Regions from separate parts of the Homo sapiens genome. Here region 1 is linked to region 2. Evidence: fine-mapped expression QTL. A gene starts in region 2. The other region holds a variant in brackets. All regions are shown on one strand. Distances are from middle to middle.

Region 1 (8,332 bases), 130 kb before region 2:
CGGGAGGAAAGGCGACAGGGACTCTAGCTTCCTGCTGGGGGAGGCGGCTCCCTGCACGGGTGGCCGGGGACCATGTGGCACTGCTCAGGCCAGGATGCCAGACAAGCATGAGAAATGGCTCCCTGGAGGGCCCTCTGCTAGACAAGGGCCATAGGTTCCCAGGAAACTTGCATCTGGCTTAGCCCTTGAACAAAATCAATGCCCCGGGCTGCAGGAGGGGAGATAATGACAGCAGAACTTGCAATTCACTTCATTCATTCACTTCATGCATTCATTTATTTATTCATTATTTCTTGAGTTCTTACTGTAAACTGAGGGAAAAGGCCAATAGATATGCAGAAAGAATGAAAGAAGAACAAATGGAGGAGGCAGAGGGCAAGGAAGAGGATCTCACATTTATTGGGCACCTACTGGATGCTCAGCACTAAGGCACAATTTGGCACATTCATCTTCCTTGGCCCTTCAGCAACATCCTACCCCCTGGAAAAGCCCCCCTTCGAGGGTCCTTGTCTCTCTGTTTCAGAATACTTTCTCCTGGGCTTCTCAGACTTTGGCATCTTCTTCATTTCCTTCTCTGGCTCCTCCCTTCCCCTGATTTCTCATTGTTGGAAGTGTGCATGGATTTAGCCCTGGTCCCTCCTCTCCACTCGTTACACTCTCCCTACAGGTGACTTCCTCCATTCCTGTGCCTTGACAACCTTCTATAGATGGAGGATTCCAATATAGTTTTCCAGCCCAGATCTCTTTTCTGAGCTCCAGAACAATATCAAAAAAACGCCTACTGGACATGCCCACTTAAGGTCTCACAAGCATCTCACCTTGCATGGATTTCAAATGGAACTCTTGATTTGCCCATTGGAACTGGTGCCTCTTCCAGGCTTTCACAAGTAAAGAAATGGCACCACCAGCCACATAGCTGCACAAGTCAGGAATCTGAGAGTTACCCTCGACAATTCCTTCTTCCTCATTCTAAATCTCACTCTAATCACTTGAACCCACACACAACTAACCCATCCCCATGTCCTGTTGGTTCTGCCTGCAAAGCATGCCTCCATCCAGCCACCCTCCTTTTCCCATCTCTACAACCATACCCAACCACCACCAACTGCATTCTGGAATACTGCATTTGATCCCTCCAATTCATTTTCCAAAGTCACCTTGTTTTGTTTTGTTTCGTTTTTAGACATAGTCTTGCTCTGTCACCCATGCTGCAGTGCAATGGCATGATCTTGGCTCATTGCAACCTCCGCCTCCTGAGTTCAAGCGGTTCTCATGCCTCAGTCTCCTGAGTAGTTGGGATTACAGGAGCCCACCACCACATCTGCCTAATTTTTGTATCTTTTTAGTAGAGACGGGGTTTCACCATGTTGGTCAGCCTGGTCTCAAACTCCTGACTTCAGGTGATCCACCTGCCTCAGCCTCCCAAAGTGCTGGGATTACAGGCGTGAACCACTGCGCCTGGCCCAAAGTCGCCTTCTTAAAAACGACATCTGTGGCTGGGCGTGGTAGCTCATGCCTGTAATCCCAACACTTTGGGAGGCCAAGGCGGGCAGATCACGAGGTCAGGAGATCCAGACCATCCTGGCTAACACGGTAAAACCCCATCTCTACTAAAAATACAAAAAATAAATAAATAAATAAATTAGCCGGGCGGGGTGGTGAGCACCTGTAGTCCCAGCTACTTGGGAGGCTGAGGCAGGAGAATGGCGTGAACCCGGGAGGTGGAGCTTGCAGTGAGCCGGGATTGCGCCACTGCACTCCAGCCTGGGCAACAGAGAGAGACTCTGTCTCAAGATGACATTCGTTCCCGTCTCTCCCATTCTGGCTCAGAATCCCTCCAGCGGCTCCCACTGCACTCAGAATGCTGTCCTCACTCTTTCCTGTGGCCCCCAAGGCCCTGCCTGATCAGAACCTGCAAACTCTCCACACTTACCCCTCCCCATCCCTCTTAGCTCATTATGTTCCAGCCACACTGGCCGTTCTTCCCTTTCTCATCCATCTCATCCCATCTCATAGGGCTTTCTGCCTGGAATACTCTCAATCTGATCAACTGTGGCCAGCAAGGAAGTGGCAAGATGGGAAACCAGAACCATTTTGCCTACAAAAAACTTTCAATGGGCCTGGCTTTTCAGAAAAGAGAAGACCAGCAAGGGCTGGTGCCATCAGGGAGAGGTTCAGCAGGGAGGCAAGCCTTGGCCTAGGCCTACAGGAATTAACTAGACTGAGACAGAAGCACAGGAAGGAGGGAGGGAAGGGATAGGGAGGGTGGACACCCACGAGAGCTGGGTCTGCAATCTCTCCTCCAGTTACTGTCTCTGTGACCTTGGGAAGTGACTTAACCTCTCTCCCTCAACTGAGAGTTAGCTGTCTGGCTGTCTATTCTGCAAAACTGTGATGCCATTTTACGGATCTAATGGACTAAAATAAGTAAAGCACTAAGCTCTGTGCCAGGCATACTTTTAGCACTCAAAAAAGAATAGCTACCACTTTGGTAGCAAAGTGAAGACAACGTTGTATGTCCATGGGGCAGTAAGAGCTGACTTTTAGATCTGGCCTCCACAACCTTGAATCCTCGGGTAAACCATTTCTGCTCACTGGGTCTCTGGTTACTTTTCCCACCTATAAAATATAGGGGTTACATAGCAGAGGCATCCTTAACTATTTGAGGAGACAGGGCCCTATTTTTCAGTGTAATAGAAGCCATGGTCTTTTCTTCCCCAGAAATAGATGCAAAATTCTGCTCACAGGATCTAGGATCCAGTGCCACCCTGGGGCCACAGGAGGCACCTGGCTGTTAAGAGGAGAGGGCGCCTCTCTGAAAGATGAGCTCACACTGGCAGACCTGTCTGGCAGCAAATAAATCTATGATACTCTCCCTTCTCCCTCCCAGCTACCCCTCAGGGGGCCAAAGCTGGCTCCTCAGCTCTGCCAGCCTCTGCCCACCCCATGCCGAGCACAGTCAGGAGGCATGCTGTGCAGAGGGACTCCATAATTGGTCCCTGCTCTGTTTGTACTTCAAACAACAACCTTGAGATGTGTTCTCTGGACGTGCCGCCTGGCTCTGGCTGCCATAACGCTCAGCCGGGAAACACATCTCCAGAGATCCACAGCACTGGGGAAAAGCTAGGCATTCTTCAGCTGATGCCCAGGAGCTGAAGGTGTTTGAAACGGGCAGGGGCAAAGAAGGGTGGGGAACGCCAGTCTGCTCAGGAAATTCTCTACTCCTTGGTGACAGTTTCCAGTACAGAAGATATCTCCTCATTCTCTTTGCAGAGCCGACCAACAGATAAGCGCTGGGGATTTATGTCTTTAGACCTGTATTTAATTTTTCACACTGCTGCTGGAATGGCTCTTCTAAGACACGGTTGGATCCCACTCACAGAATAAAGGCCAAGTTCTTTGCCGTGGTCTGCAAGTACTGCCCTGGACTTTTGGTCTGGCTTAACCCTGGTTCCCACACACTGGCATCCTTCCATTAAACTGCCACCACCATGACTTTAAGGAAGCAAGCAAATCTGGTCCCTGCAACCTAATAGTGTCCCCTCTTCTTATGGCAGCACCTATAGTTACCTGTTTATTGGGTCTCTTCCACAAAACAGCGTGTGTCCTGGAGGCAGGAGTGTGGCTTTTCTCTCTGAGAGGTTGGTAATAAAAACTGCTCACAGCCTCAGTGCAGCTCTCCCTTCCCACCTCACTCCACCAAGGCCCTCAGGCTACAGACAAGGGGACAGACACAGAACTCACAGCCCTCAAACTATGCCTTGTGGAGGAAATGAACAGGCTCAGACATGGTGAAAAAAGGGTTAAGAATGAACTTGCCCTGAATCAGGGTGTGTAGGTCAAGCAAGATGCAAAGGAACTGCATGGCAATGATGCAAACATGCCCCTGTG[T/G]GGGTGGGGCCAAAACCAAAACCAAACAAACCAACAAAATGGAACACAGTATGAAAAAAAATCCAAAAACAACACCACCCACACACACAAAACAAAAACCCCAGTCTAAATAAAAACAACTAAACAAATGGAAGGAAATTACCCAAACGTGCTTCATGCTATGGAATAGCTTAAAAGCATGAATTTAATAAAATAAGAGCTAAAGGATTAGATGATTAAATAAAGCAATGGAATAAAGAATGATAAAACTGAGAACCACAAAACACTTTTGCAGAACCAATAAATACATGTTGAAACTCCAAGAAGCAGTGCAGGCACAGCAGGAAATCTAATTACTGATACCAACTAAAGGGTTCCAGTCCTGGCTCTGACACTCTTGAGCAGTGGGACCTTGGGCAAGTCACTGGGACTCAGAGGAGAAAGATTTAAATTATTAAAGCAACTACAGGAGAGAATAAAATGTATAGAAAGAGCAAAGGTGATCCAACATCAGAAAACTGGTGAACCTGAAGCAGAGAAACAGATGGAACACACAAAACAGTCTTCATCTTTTTAAATAAAAACCTCCTGAGATGAATAAAGATCTGAGTCTGCACATCAAAATTGCACACCACATTCCATAAAAAATTGATACAAAGGGATTGACACGAAGATGTTTCCTGGTTTAGGTATCGAACTTCCAAATGCAAGAAAGAAATCATCAAGCACCCAGGCAGAACCAACAAGTCACCTACAGAAGGGGAAATGTTCAGCTGACCTCAAACTTCCCCGCGGCAGCTTTCCATGTCAGCGGATAATGAAGCAACACCCACGGGGCTGAGTCCAAATGTGACCAGAAGCATTTTAACCTGCTGAGGTGCCGTTCAAGTACGGACAGCAGGAGTGTGATATTCCCACATCCAAGCTCAGGGATGACAGCACCTATGAGCCCATTTTGAAGCAGCCACTAGAATCCACTATGGCAGACTTCTAATTTGGACCCCAGTCTGTCTGGCCCATGCTCTTTCTGTTAATGCCATTTCTGCTTTATATATGAATTTTGTTCCCACATGCAGTCAATGAAGAGGTGGTTCAAAATAAAAAACCCAAGAATGGAGCAGAAGAACCAGTAGAGCACTGAATCTATGTAATTACAAAACTAAAAGTAAACAGCTATGGGAATGGTCATGAAACACTACAAAAGTGTTATAGACTCTGACAATCTAAAAATAACGATTGTGCAGACAATGGCTTTAAGTTTCTGTCCCTGTAAGATTTCATGAAAGCTGCACTTAAGGAATGAAAACAGATGAACCTAAATTTTCTCAAGACCTATGCTCTGACACTGGCTCCACTGCTTACTGTTTATGTGATTTGGAGGAAGCTGCTTAACCTGTTTGAACCTCAGTTCCATCACCTGTAAAATGGGGAGAATAATGCCTATTTCACAGGGTTTTAAGAATTAAATGAAAATACTGTAGGTAAAAAGCAGTGGCTTGCACATAGTAAATGTCAATTAAGAGGAGAAGCTGACTAAAGATGAGAATAAAAGTGAACATCTCCCTTCCCCCTTCCTCCCCAAAAAAGGCAAGGGGGTACCCATCAGCTCTGGATCTGGATAGCTAGTGAGGCTCTGGGCTCTCCAGTAGGTTGCTGTATCAATTCACAATGTTGCAACTCATTGCAGGGAGAAGCCCCTCCCACAGAGAGGCATTGGGCCCCCAGTTTCCAACCACACAGAGAGCAAACTCTTTTCCCCAGGACTGAGGCAGAGAAACTGAAGACTGAAGGAAAAGCAAGCCTTCACCTCCTGGCAGGGGCATGGTGAGAAGCAGTGTGGATCCAGCTGCTTGCCAGTGGATGCCCCCTTCTGAAGGCCTGAACAGGTCCCCATATGACTAGCCCTGAGGAACGCAGCATGCTGGGACACACGATACATGTAGGTCAGCAAGTCAGATTCTAGACCCAATCTATCTGCCACCCACTAGCAGTGTGACCTTGAGCAAGTCACTTGAACTCTCCCTATTTCCTCATCGTAGAATAAGAGGGTAGGAGTCAATGATCCCTAAAGCACCCCTGCGTTTACCATGTATATAGAGTGCAAAGTTCTGTGTGGGTTGTACCCTTACACCAGTCTTTCCTGCCATAATTAATTCAACAAGAACCCCAGAGAAAGGAAGAGGAAGGAGAAGGAAACATGAGACAGAAGTGTAAATTAGCAGGTGAGGGAATGCATAAAGGAGGGAGGGAAGGGCTAAAGTTCTGTGGCCTCTGAAGAATCAACCACTCGCTAGCTTTAAAGAGGCAGGAGCTTGGCCGGGCACCGTGGCTCATGCCTGTAATCCCAGCACTTTGGGAGGCTGAGGTGGGTGGATCACCTGAGGTCAGGAGTTTGAGACCAGCCTGACCAACTTGGTGAAACCTCATCTCTACTAAAAATACAAAAACGTTAGCTGGGCATAGTGGTGCACTCCTGTAATCCCAGCTACTTGGGAGGCTGAGGCAGGAGAATCGCTTGAACCTGGGAGGCTGAGGTTGCAGTGAGCCAAGAGCGTACCATTGCACTCCAGCCTGGGTGACAAGAGCTAACATCCATCTCAAAGGAAAAAAAAAAAAAAAAAAAGAGATGGGAACTCACTCTCTGCCAGTGAGAGTTGAGAGTTAGTGACTACAGCCTCTGCAGGGCACCCCAAATCCACTCCTGACAGGAGAATTGCAGAAAGAAGGCAACTCTGCCTTATAAAAAGGGTCCGGAAAATCTGCCTCCATCTATACTAAAATCGATGGGCTAACAGTTGAGATGAATCAGAATGTCTGCAAAGTCTCAAAGTACATCCTCCAATGTACTAATGGCAAAAGGGAAAAAAAGAGTAATTTTATGATGGAGACTGCTGGCCAGTACCACCCTAGCCAAGCAATCAAGATTAACATTACCAGTAATAAAACATATCAATATCACATATCCCCTATAAGGATGTACTGACAAGGGCTCAACACCACGTCTGTAGTATTTTTGCCAAAAACACGTAGCTTCAGTCTAATCTGGAGAAAACATCAGACAAACCCAATGGAGAGACATTCTACAAAACAACTGACTAGAACTCTTCAGCGTGTCAAGGTCACGTAAGACAAGGAAAGACATCACAGATTGGAAGAGACTATTACAATTAAATGCAAGGTGGATCCTGGCTTGGTAACCAGAGCCACTGGGATCATCCCACCAGACAAGCTGCCTAAACGAGACCTTGAAGCAGGCTGAGGGGGCATGAAATCTAGAATGGGTAGAGGAGGAAGGAGATGATGAGAGTCACAAACAATTGCAGCAGCAGGGCCTAGAGTTTGCTCTACTAGCCCTTCTGCATGGATCCGCTCGGGCTACCATCACAAAACACCATAGACCACGGGGCTTAAACAACAGAAGTTTATTTTCTCACAGCTCTGGACGCTGGCAGTCCAAGATCAACGTGCGAACAGGGTTAGTTTCTCCTGAGGCCTCTCCACTTGGCCCGCAGATGGCCGTCTTCTGGCTGAGTCCTCATGTGGTTTTTTCTCTGTGTGTACATCCCCAATGTCTCTTTCTGGATTTCTAATCTTCCCTTCTTGTAAGGACACCAATCAGATTGTATTATGCCAACCTTGATTACCTCCTTATAGGCCATCTCTCCAAATACAGTCACATGGGGGTTAGAGCTCCAACGTATGAATGGTAGAGGGTAGAGAAGGGACACAATTCAGGCGATTACACCTTTCCTTACAGAGCTTCCTAGAAACTGGGACTAAACAGAATCCCAGAGAAGCTGTACCAGGATAGAGGGATGAACCACAGTGGGTGCCACTGTGCCCCACACGAACTCCTTCCACTGGGCCTGCACACCCATCTCTCAGCTGCTAGGAGTGCTGGCTGCAAACTTCTACAGAGACCTGCCCCCCAGAACAAGACCTGCCTCTCCTGGGAGGTATATCCCCAACTCCAGGGAGCAACTGGTGCCAGTGGCTGAGCAATCTCTTCTCCAAGGCTCCCCTTGGAACCAGGTTGAAATCTCCTACTATGAGATACATCCTTGCAGAGCATCTTCCCCCGCCTGCCCTGTCTTGCTTCCCTCACTCCCCTCCTCCTGGGAGTGCTCTCATTAAATTTACAAGGCTCTGCTTCTATGGAATCTGACTCAAGACACAAAGCACTACCTACAAAGCTTAGGATAGTGCCTGGCACACAAAAGGGATCACGAGGTGTTAGCTATCATCCTCACAACATACCACGCTCTGTGCTGGACGAACCGTACACATTATTCACTGAATCCTCAAAAACCCTGCAAGGCAAATAATGTGATGATCACTTTATGGTTAAGCAAGGGTCTCAAAGCTAGCTATGGCAGACTTCTAATTTGGACCCCAGTCTGTCTGGCCCATGCTCTTTCTGTTAATGCCATTTCTGCTTTATATATGAATTTTGTTCCCACAT
Region 2 (8,332 bases):
GGCCAAATTTTTCACCTCCTTAATGTCATCTGCATAAAAGTACTATCTTGTCTCCCTTGTGCAGTTGTGAGTATTAAATGAACTAATATATGTAAATGGAGTCTGTGAATTTGTAAAGCCCTATAGAAATGCTGGTGGCTGTTATTTAACATGCATGCATAGGCTTACATGGGTTAGGTCCATAAGCACACTCAAGAAGAAAATCATTTGACCATATTTACATGCAGCCAACCAAACCACGATCAACAGACTTGGTATTCTTCATCTAGCTCCCAAATGCCACCCATCAATAGGCTGCTTCAGAATCACATGCAACCCTGGTAAAAACAGTAATTCTAGAACCTTCTCCCAAACTCACAGAGGCATAATCTCTGTAGTAAGCCCAAAAATCTGCATGTTAATGGAGCTCACCAGGTGATTCTGACATGCAGCCAGGTTTCGGTACCACTGTGCTCCTTTGGACATGTCATATAAATTTGGACTTGTCATACAAAGTCACAGGGAATAAAACTGTTCTGGCGTTACCTAAGGAGTCTCTGTCTTTCTTCCTCTCTTCTCAGGTACATACACACTAAGATACAGAGCGACATACATACAAGGGAAAAACAGGAAGAAGAAAAATACTAACAAAAAAAAAAGAAGACACCTAATAGTAAGAGGTGTCAAGATTTTCTAAGTCTATAAAAATTCATGGTTCTAGAAGGATACAGAAAATGAGGAAAAGAAGGAACAAGATGTTAAGACAAAGAGCAACTGGTTCAAAACTAGAAAACCTCCTCTTTTGTGACTGCACAGTACAATGTCCTGACTTCTGCTACTAAACCACTCCCCACCTTAAAGTACCACTCATTTGTTGGTAATTCTGCCTCATCCTGCAACTTATGTGGCCCCCCACCCCCATGCCAAAGGACAGGGACACAGCGTGCTCATCATAGCAGCCCCCAAACCCAGCACAGAGCCTGGCATACAGCTGCCTGTGATAGATGTGTGCTGAGCACACGCCAGGATAAGAAGAGGCAGGAGAGGAGGAGGGACAAAGAGTGCACAAAGAAAGAAACAGGTCTCTTGTCCCAGATCCCTGGTGTAAACTAAGAATAAGCAAGCTTAAGGTAATGAGGGTCGAAGCAAAACAGAGAAAGTTCATGTCCCTGCAGGTATCATTAACTACATCACAGGGAGCAGAACCACCTAGGGAAAAAGAAGAAAAGCTCTCCAGATCTATGGGCAGGGGCTGAGTGAGAAAAGTGATCTGGTGCTATTAAAGGTGGTTTGAAGTCATCAATCTGGCCTCGCCACCTCACTGCCTGACCCTCTCCAAGAGTCCTCACACCCACAAGATTCTACCCCACCCAGCCCCTACACACCTCCCTAAACTTTATCCCTCCAACCTCCACATACTTTGTGCTCAAATTATGCCAAACTCACACAACGTGCTGTGTCATTCCTCTGAGCCTGTTTCATGCAGTTAACCTCTACCTGGAATGCCCTTTCTACCTACTGACAAACCTGTTTATCCTTCTCAGCTCAGCTCTGTTATGTCCTCCTCCTCCAGGGAGACCTCAGGCTCCCATGACACCCAGTGCACTGAACCCTCTTAGCCCTATGCACACCTCACATCCTGGTCCAATGATGAGTGAACTCCTCTCCCCCCAGAGAGTAAATTCTATCTCTCTCTACCCATAGCACCTAACACACTGCCTGAGCACACAATAGGTGCTAAATAAATGCTTGTTGAAATCGACAAAGCATTGGCAAGATTCCAGAACATAAGTGCTAGAAGACTTGGTTAAAAAGGGGAAACCGAGAGGCAACTTGATATACTGGAAACCCTGAGCGTGGAGGCTGGAGTTCAAACCAGTAGAACGACTTAAGGTACGTGACTTAAAGACCCTGAACCTGTTTTCCTGATCTATGAAACAAGCATATTACCACCCAACTCCTACAACTACTTATGAGGAAGGCACCTACTATGCACCTGGCACACAGTAGGCCCTCTGTACTGTACTTAACTGGTGAGACGCCACCTCCCGCCCACATCTTCCTGTTTTTCAGTCTCCCATTTCCGACCATAAGCTCCTCCAAGGCTTTTGCCCAGACCCCTAGACGACTGTTCTGGACCCAGTTTATAAAGACTGCCTGGCTGGCCAGGAAATCCCCCAGAGGCCTCCTTCCGTGTCCCCGGGCCAAATCTGTGAAGAGAAAACGGAAGGCTACCATGTCACGAAAAACTATGATCAAATAAATTATTATGCCTTTTCTCCTATTGATCTGCCTTTTGTCAACTGATTTTCAGTGAACCTTCGGAGAGCCATGGGGAAGTTTTCCCTTTCCCCCTACAGGGCTCTGAATCTGAAGGTAAGAGTGAGCCTATAGGGGGAACCTTCTGGCTCCCTCACAGGAACTGACTGAGCAGGAGTTGGAAAAGCCACTTGGATTCCCATTTCCTCAACTCCCCGCCAATACCAAGGCGTCTGTTTTTACAGGCTCTTTCGTGGTGTTCTGGGCACATTCAACTTCCAATGCAGCTGAGAGGGTCGGGAACAGTTAGAGAACAGGGGTGGCAGCCGCCCGGGAGGCTGCAAGGCGCTCGCCCGCAACGCACAGGCGCGCGCGGCGCACCCGGCCTCCGGCCTCCCCAGGTCGGGCCTGGCAGCTGCGGGAAGGAGGTCAGCGCAGCCGCCACACTTCGCCCGGGCGCTGGCCCGACCCGACCGCCGGCGACTCTCTGGCAGCGCCCGGAGACCGCCAGCCCCTGGGCCGCCCGTCCGCAGAGCCCCCTCCGCCCCGGGACCCTCGCGCGCAGCTCAAGTTGGGAGCCCCGCTCCGCAGGCGAGCGCGCGCCCACCACCCACACCCACTGCCACTCATGCACACCGCGGGTCCGGAGATGCCCCCGAGCGTTTTAAAATCCAGAAACATCACATGGTAGCCACATCCGGCGGCTGTTACCTGCTCGCAGCACCCAGACCCTCGCCCTGGTTTCCCGGGAGCCCGCAAACCCGGCACGCGGGCTGCGCGCCCTCCCGCAAGCCACCGCTCAGCGCCAGCGCGCCGGCAAGCCGCCTACCTTAGGGGTCTGCACTTCAGGTCCCGTCGGCACCTCCAACTTCCTCTTGGTTACCCAGAAGAACAGCAGCACCGTGATCCAGAGCACCCCGAAGACTGGCAGAACCAGCCGACGAGTCAGGCGCCGCATGGTCCCCTTTGCCGCTTCCTCTCCGCGGCGCTACGTCCCGGGGGCACCCCCCGGCGGTCAGGGTTGGCGGGGCAGGAGTCCTGGCGAGCGCCTCGCTCTGGGGAGCTCTAGACCCAGGATCCGGTTGGAGGGGCGGCAGGATCCTGCAAGGCGCCCTTCCCGCTTCGAAGAGAAGCGAGCCTGGGTGGGGGGTGCAGGGCGACCCGAAACGTGGCAGGGAAGGACCGAGGGCAGCCAAGCTGGACGCCCGCTCCAGCGGGAGAAGCGCGGTGGCTGCCGAGATGTTCCCCACGCCGCCACCGCGGCTGCCGCCGCCGCCGCCGCCGCCTTGCCCGCTGCCGCCGATAGGGAAACTGACTCGAGCAGCGAGAGGGAGGAATCCGAGGCTGTGCCAAGCACCCCGGGAGGAGCACGAGGGCGGAGGGAGTGAGCGGGGAGGGCGGGCCCGACAGACAGGCCGACTCGGAGCGAGCCCAGGTGGGAGTGAGCGGGGCTCTGAGAGGGGGCGCTACCGCCGCCCGCCGACCGAAACGCTCGGTGCTGTTGCGGGGCCGCCAGCGCCAAGCCCTGGGCGCAGCTCCCAGACCATCGTGGGTTGGGGCAAGGCGGGGCGGGGCGGGAGCGGTGCACTCGGGATGCCCGCCACCCCCAGCTGCCAGCTGGGACCCAAGGGCCGGCCCTCGCCAGGCGGCGCTGTGCCTGGGAGGACTTTCCCGCTCATCGCGGGGGCTGCACGTGGCGCTGAAGCCGGGGTCCCACCCCCAATGTGCTCGTCCTACCACAGCCAAGGCTGGGATTCCAGGGCGCCGGCAGGGCTGCTGCCCCAAACCCGCGGTTCACTTGCCTGGCTACTGAGGGCCAAGGCCGCGGTCAGCCAACTCCCCAGGGTGTTTCTATGCCTGCCTGCAGGTGCCTGGTAACTTTTTCTGCTTAACGGAAGGAAAGCTGAGCTGGTCTAATTTTAACTTTAAAGATATCCTTTAAAAAATTAAGGCGCAATTATCTCCCATAAAGGTTTTCTCTCCCTGTAAGCATCAGGGCTTTGTGCTTGCAAGAAAAGAGGTCCAAAGTTGGAACAACCACTTGGGATTCTTGGAAAGTGACCCTGGGCAGGAGGATACTGGGTGCAGAGGGTGATCTTTCAAAAGCCCCTTTTCCCAAGGGCCTTTGGGAATTGTATCCCCCTCCCACTTGCAGATTAAAACCGCTTGGATCTAGAAGCAAAGCAAATTCTAACTCCAATTCCCATGTAGGCTCAAGTAGGCTGGAATCACGGCCAGATCACTGACCAGAGAGTACTGACCTAGCTGTCACACTCACTGTGTGAGTCTTGGGTAAGTCATTTACCTTCTCCCAGTCTTCGATTCCTCATCTGTAAAATGGAGGGAAAATACCTCCTCTGACAAGCAAATGAGTAGTGGTGAAAGCTGAATGCAAGGTGCTGGTGTTATCTGACCACTCAAAGTGGGGAAACCTTGCTCTGTCTGGGGAGCAGAGGCAGCGGGAACCATGCCATTTTTGTTGGAGGGTTGCTTGCTTCATCGAGTTTCTTGGGGAGGTGAGAACGATGCACCCACTGTGGCAGCCACCATTCTCCCTGCCCCTCTCTCCCCATAAAGCTCAGTGTAGGGCAAGCTCCCATACCTCCGCACAGGTGAGACAGCTGTAAATCAGGGCTCTGGAATTCCTTCTTCAATAAGATGTCTCCCCAAAGACATGTACTGAGAAATGGAGGCGTCTACTCAAAGCCTCCTGTTTTTGGTACCTTATCTTTCAGCCACAGGGAAGTCCTGCCTCAACCTCAGAGAGTTCTTGACTGGACTGTAGATAAGATGTTTGGGGTTGGGAACCGCAGTTGAAATTAAACAGCCCAGAAAAGGTGAGCACTGTTGCCAGCCCTTTCAAGATCTACCTGCGCTCTTAGACCATCACACAGAACCCCAGGGTTGATCTAGCATTTGCCTTTATCAGAACTCTGAACACTGAAAGGTGGGAGTAGGCTCCCCAGCCAATGCTTTGTCCCAGCAAAGGCCCAGGTAGATGATCATCATGGGAGGGGTAGGGGGAGCAGCAAGAGAACTCACCTCTGCAGCATCCCAAGCACCTTGGACCTCTTTCAGGAGCCTCACCCGGGACCTGCAGTTTCGGGCCTGCAAAGCGTTCTGCTGCAGGCTCTGCAGGGGACCCCCAGGCAAGCTGCTGAGCTGCTGTTGGCTCCAGGCAGAAGCTGCAGCACAGGAGTCCATTGCTCAGCGCTTTGTAATGCCGCTTCTGAGTAACAGATGGCAGACAGTTACACAAGAACACCGCCAAGCTTTTGAGATGGTGCAGCACCACCACGCTGCTCACCACACTGCTGAGATGCTGAGGTGCCTCATTCTGACTGTTTGGCATATGGGGAAACTGAGGCCCTGGGGTGAAGGCAGCTCCGTGCAGGGACTGCAATGTCTCAGAGAGTGGGAATTTCCTTCCAGGAATGATTTTCTTCTCAAATCATTATTTTGTCCTCTACTCAAGTGAGGAAGATTTCCTGGGCCTATGGAAGCTGTCAAGGGAATCCAGTTTTGCTAGGTGTCATTAGCTGATCCATCCAGAGATCATATCAGATATCAGTTTGGGTTGTCAAACCAGTAAATATCATTAGGACTGAAGTAGATTTCAAGTGGGACTTCAAACATCTGGAAGTGAAGTGAGTGTCCATGCGGGGCCTAGTTCTGTAGGTCTCTCCAGGAACCCAGTCTATCCAGGGGTCCCCCATGCTCAGGAATATATTTGAAACGCTTTAATAACCAGCTTTAAGCCTGGGCAACATAGCGAGAGCTTGTCTCTAAACAACAACAACAACAACAAAATAGCCAGGCGAAGTGGCAGGTGTCTCTAGTCCCAGCCAATTGGGAGGCTAAGACAGGAGGATTACTTGAGCCCAGGATTTTGAGGCTGCAGCGAGCTATGATCTCACCACTGCACTCCAGCCTGGGTGATGGAGCGAGACCCTGTCTCAAAAAATGAATAAATAAAATAACAAGCTTAAGTAATGCAGAGTATGGTTGATCCCAGCGGGGGATTAGCTATCATTGGCGATTAATCCAAGTTACTTTTTTCTTATCACAGCCAATATGGGGAGGAAAAGCTCCTAGCAAAAGACTTAACATGGCAGGAAATGAAAAAAAATAAATACACTCTGAACTAGGACTCTCCTGGTTCTCCTGGATCTCCTAAAACAGATCTACCTCCTCAGTCTTGATATTGTTGAGCCAAGCTCCTCATTCCTCTGGGTCTGTGGTTTCCCATCGGCAATGTCATGTTCTCTCAAAGACCCTCCCAGCTGACGCATTTAGGGTTCTGACCTTTCTTGTCCTGGATCAGGACCTTCTTTACCACTCCTGTTGTTGGCGAGTTCTGTGTAAGCTGTTCTCTCCTCACAGCCGAAGACATTAGAGAGCAAATTGGGTACTGGAGCAGATGTGAGTCATTCATGTTAGTATAAAAACTATGGAATGAAACCCATTATGGCCCGGAAAGCAGTGTAAAGCAGCATATGGAGCAAATGCAAGCTGGAAGCAGGAGGAAGCTGTGAAGTCCGATGCATATGCTCTGTGGCGGCTTTTGCTGTGGATTCTCACACTTCGCTTCTCGTTTCCTGTAGCCGTCTCCCCATCATTCTCGCTCAGCCCACTGCAGAGGCTGCAGCCTTTGTTCCTTTTGGATCAGATTCTCTGAGTCCCTCCTCTCTGCCCACTGCATGACTTCAGGGAGGCTGTGTGTGCGCGAGTGGCTGTGTGTGTGCTTCTTGCCATCTGCACGCTTATTAGACCTGTCACAATCAGCGAGACACCCTCTGTGCCAACCTAACGAAATTTCACCCACAGAGGCCCAGACAGGTTTCTGTTGAGGTCTTTACCTCTTCTGGGCCATAGGGAAAGGTAAGCAGTAGCAGGGCAGATTGCAGCACAGTGAGAAGATGAGTCGCACACATGCTGGCCCAGCAGCAAAAAGAGCGGCAGTGAAAATTCAAAGATCTGTCTGTCTTTATTCCACAGTCATACAGATACAAGTCTTTGGGCTGACTCCTGCAGTTGACTCTGTTCAAGTTCTCCACTGTAAATAATACATCAGCTCCCCTTTCCTCTGTGTTCCTCTCCATTTTCCTTGCCACTATAGATCCTGTCAAAACCGCATGTCCTGGGTTTCCTGCAAGGCTTTCTTATAGAGTGAGTGATGGAATAGTTTAAACCACGTGGTGAATGAGGATGAGCTATTACCAACCCCTTACCTCATCTTTCTGCCACATCAGTGAATCTTTGTCAAAAGAATAAAGCCAGCTGGATTTTCCTCTCATCTTTGACGGGTAGATGGGTGGCTTTATCTAAGGGATCTGACAGTCACCTTTCTGGATCTTTCTCTTTCCATTAAACAACTCCTTTCACCAGCCCACTACCCTCAACTCCTCTCCCTCCTTTTATTCTTATATTCGATTCCTTGAAAGGGATCTATATCTTTGCATTTCAAAAGCCTGCTTCTTTTATTGTTTGAAATGCCCCAAACTTTCTTTGTTTCTCACCCAAATGCCAAGTGTAAAACTTAATACTGCTACAATGATATGTCTTTGCTGGTTGTGTAAAGTGGTTTGATCTTCAGTGATGGTGCCCTGTGGTGATCTGAGAAATTTCCCCCACCCCCCCCCCAGCCCCTATAGAATATGCAAAGTTCTAGCATGAAGGTGTGACCCAGTTTGCCTAAAGAAAAGTAAAAGAGACCTGCACAGTGGCTCACGCCTGTAATCCCAGCACTTTGGGAGGCCGAGGCGGGCAGATCACTTGAGGTCAGGAGTTTGAGACCAGCCTGACCAACATGGCGAAACCCCGTCTCTTTTAAAAAATACCAAAATTAGCCGGGCATGGTGGCAGGCACCTGTAATCCAGCTACTCGGGAGGCTGTGGCAGGAGGATGGCTTGAATCCGGGAAGCGGAGGTTGCAGTGAGCTGAAATCACGCCATTGCACTCCAGCCTGTGCAACAAGAGCAAAACTCCATCATCAAAAAAAAAAAAAAATAGAAAAGAAAGAAAAAGAAAATTATTTCCCTTGAATTATCTAGAGGAGACTCTGACAGAGGGCAGCACAGGCAGAAGAAATAG

What was found.
Region 1: its variant is fine-mapped to the expression of GALNT14 in whole blood (TOPMed, PIP above 0.99).

Annotation. Positions count from the first base shown.
Region 1 is chr2:31,008,824-31,017,155 of GRCh38, forward strand. All of the region lies in intron 1 of GALNT14 (polypeptide N-acetylgalactosaminyltransferase 14), which reads right to left. Among named protein-coding and RNA genes, the nearest start is that of GALNT14, 130 kb to the right of the region's middle. The variant T/G (reference allele first, on the strand shown) is at 3,892.
Region 2 is chr2:31,134,891-31,143,222 of GRCh38, forward strand. GALNT14 (polypeptide N-acetylgalactosaminyltransferase 14) reads right to left here and starts at 3,550. Exons shown (of 15, transcript NM_024572.4): 1 at 3,068-3,550. The coding sequence starts at 3,196.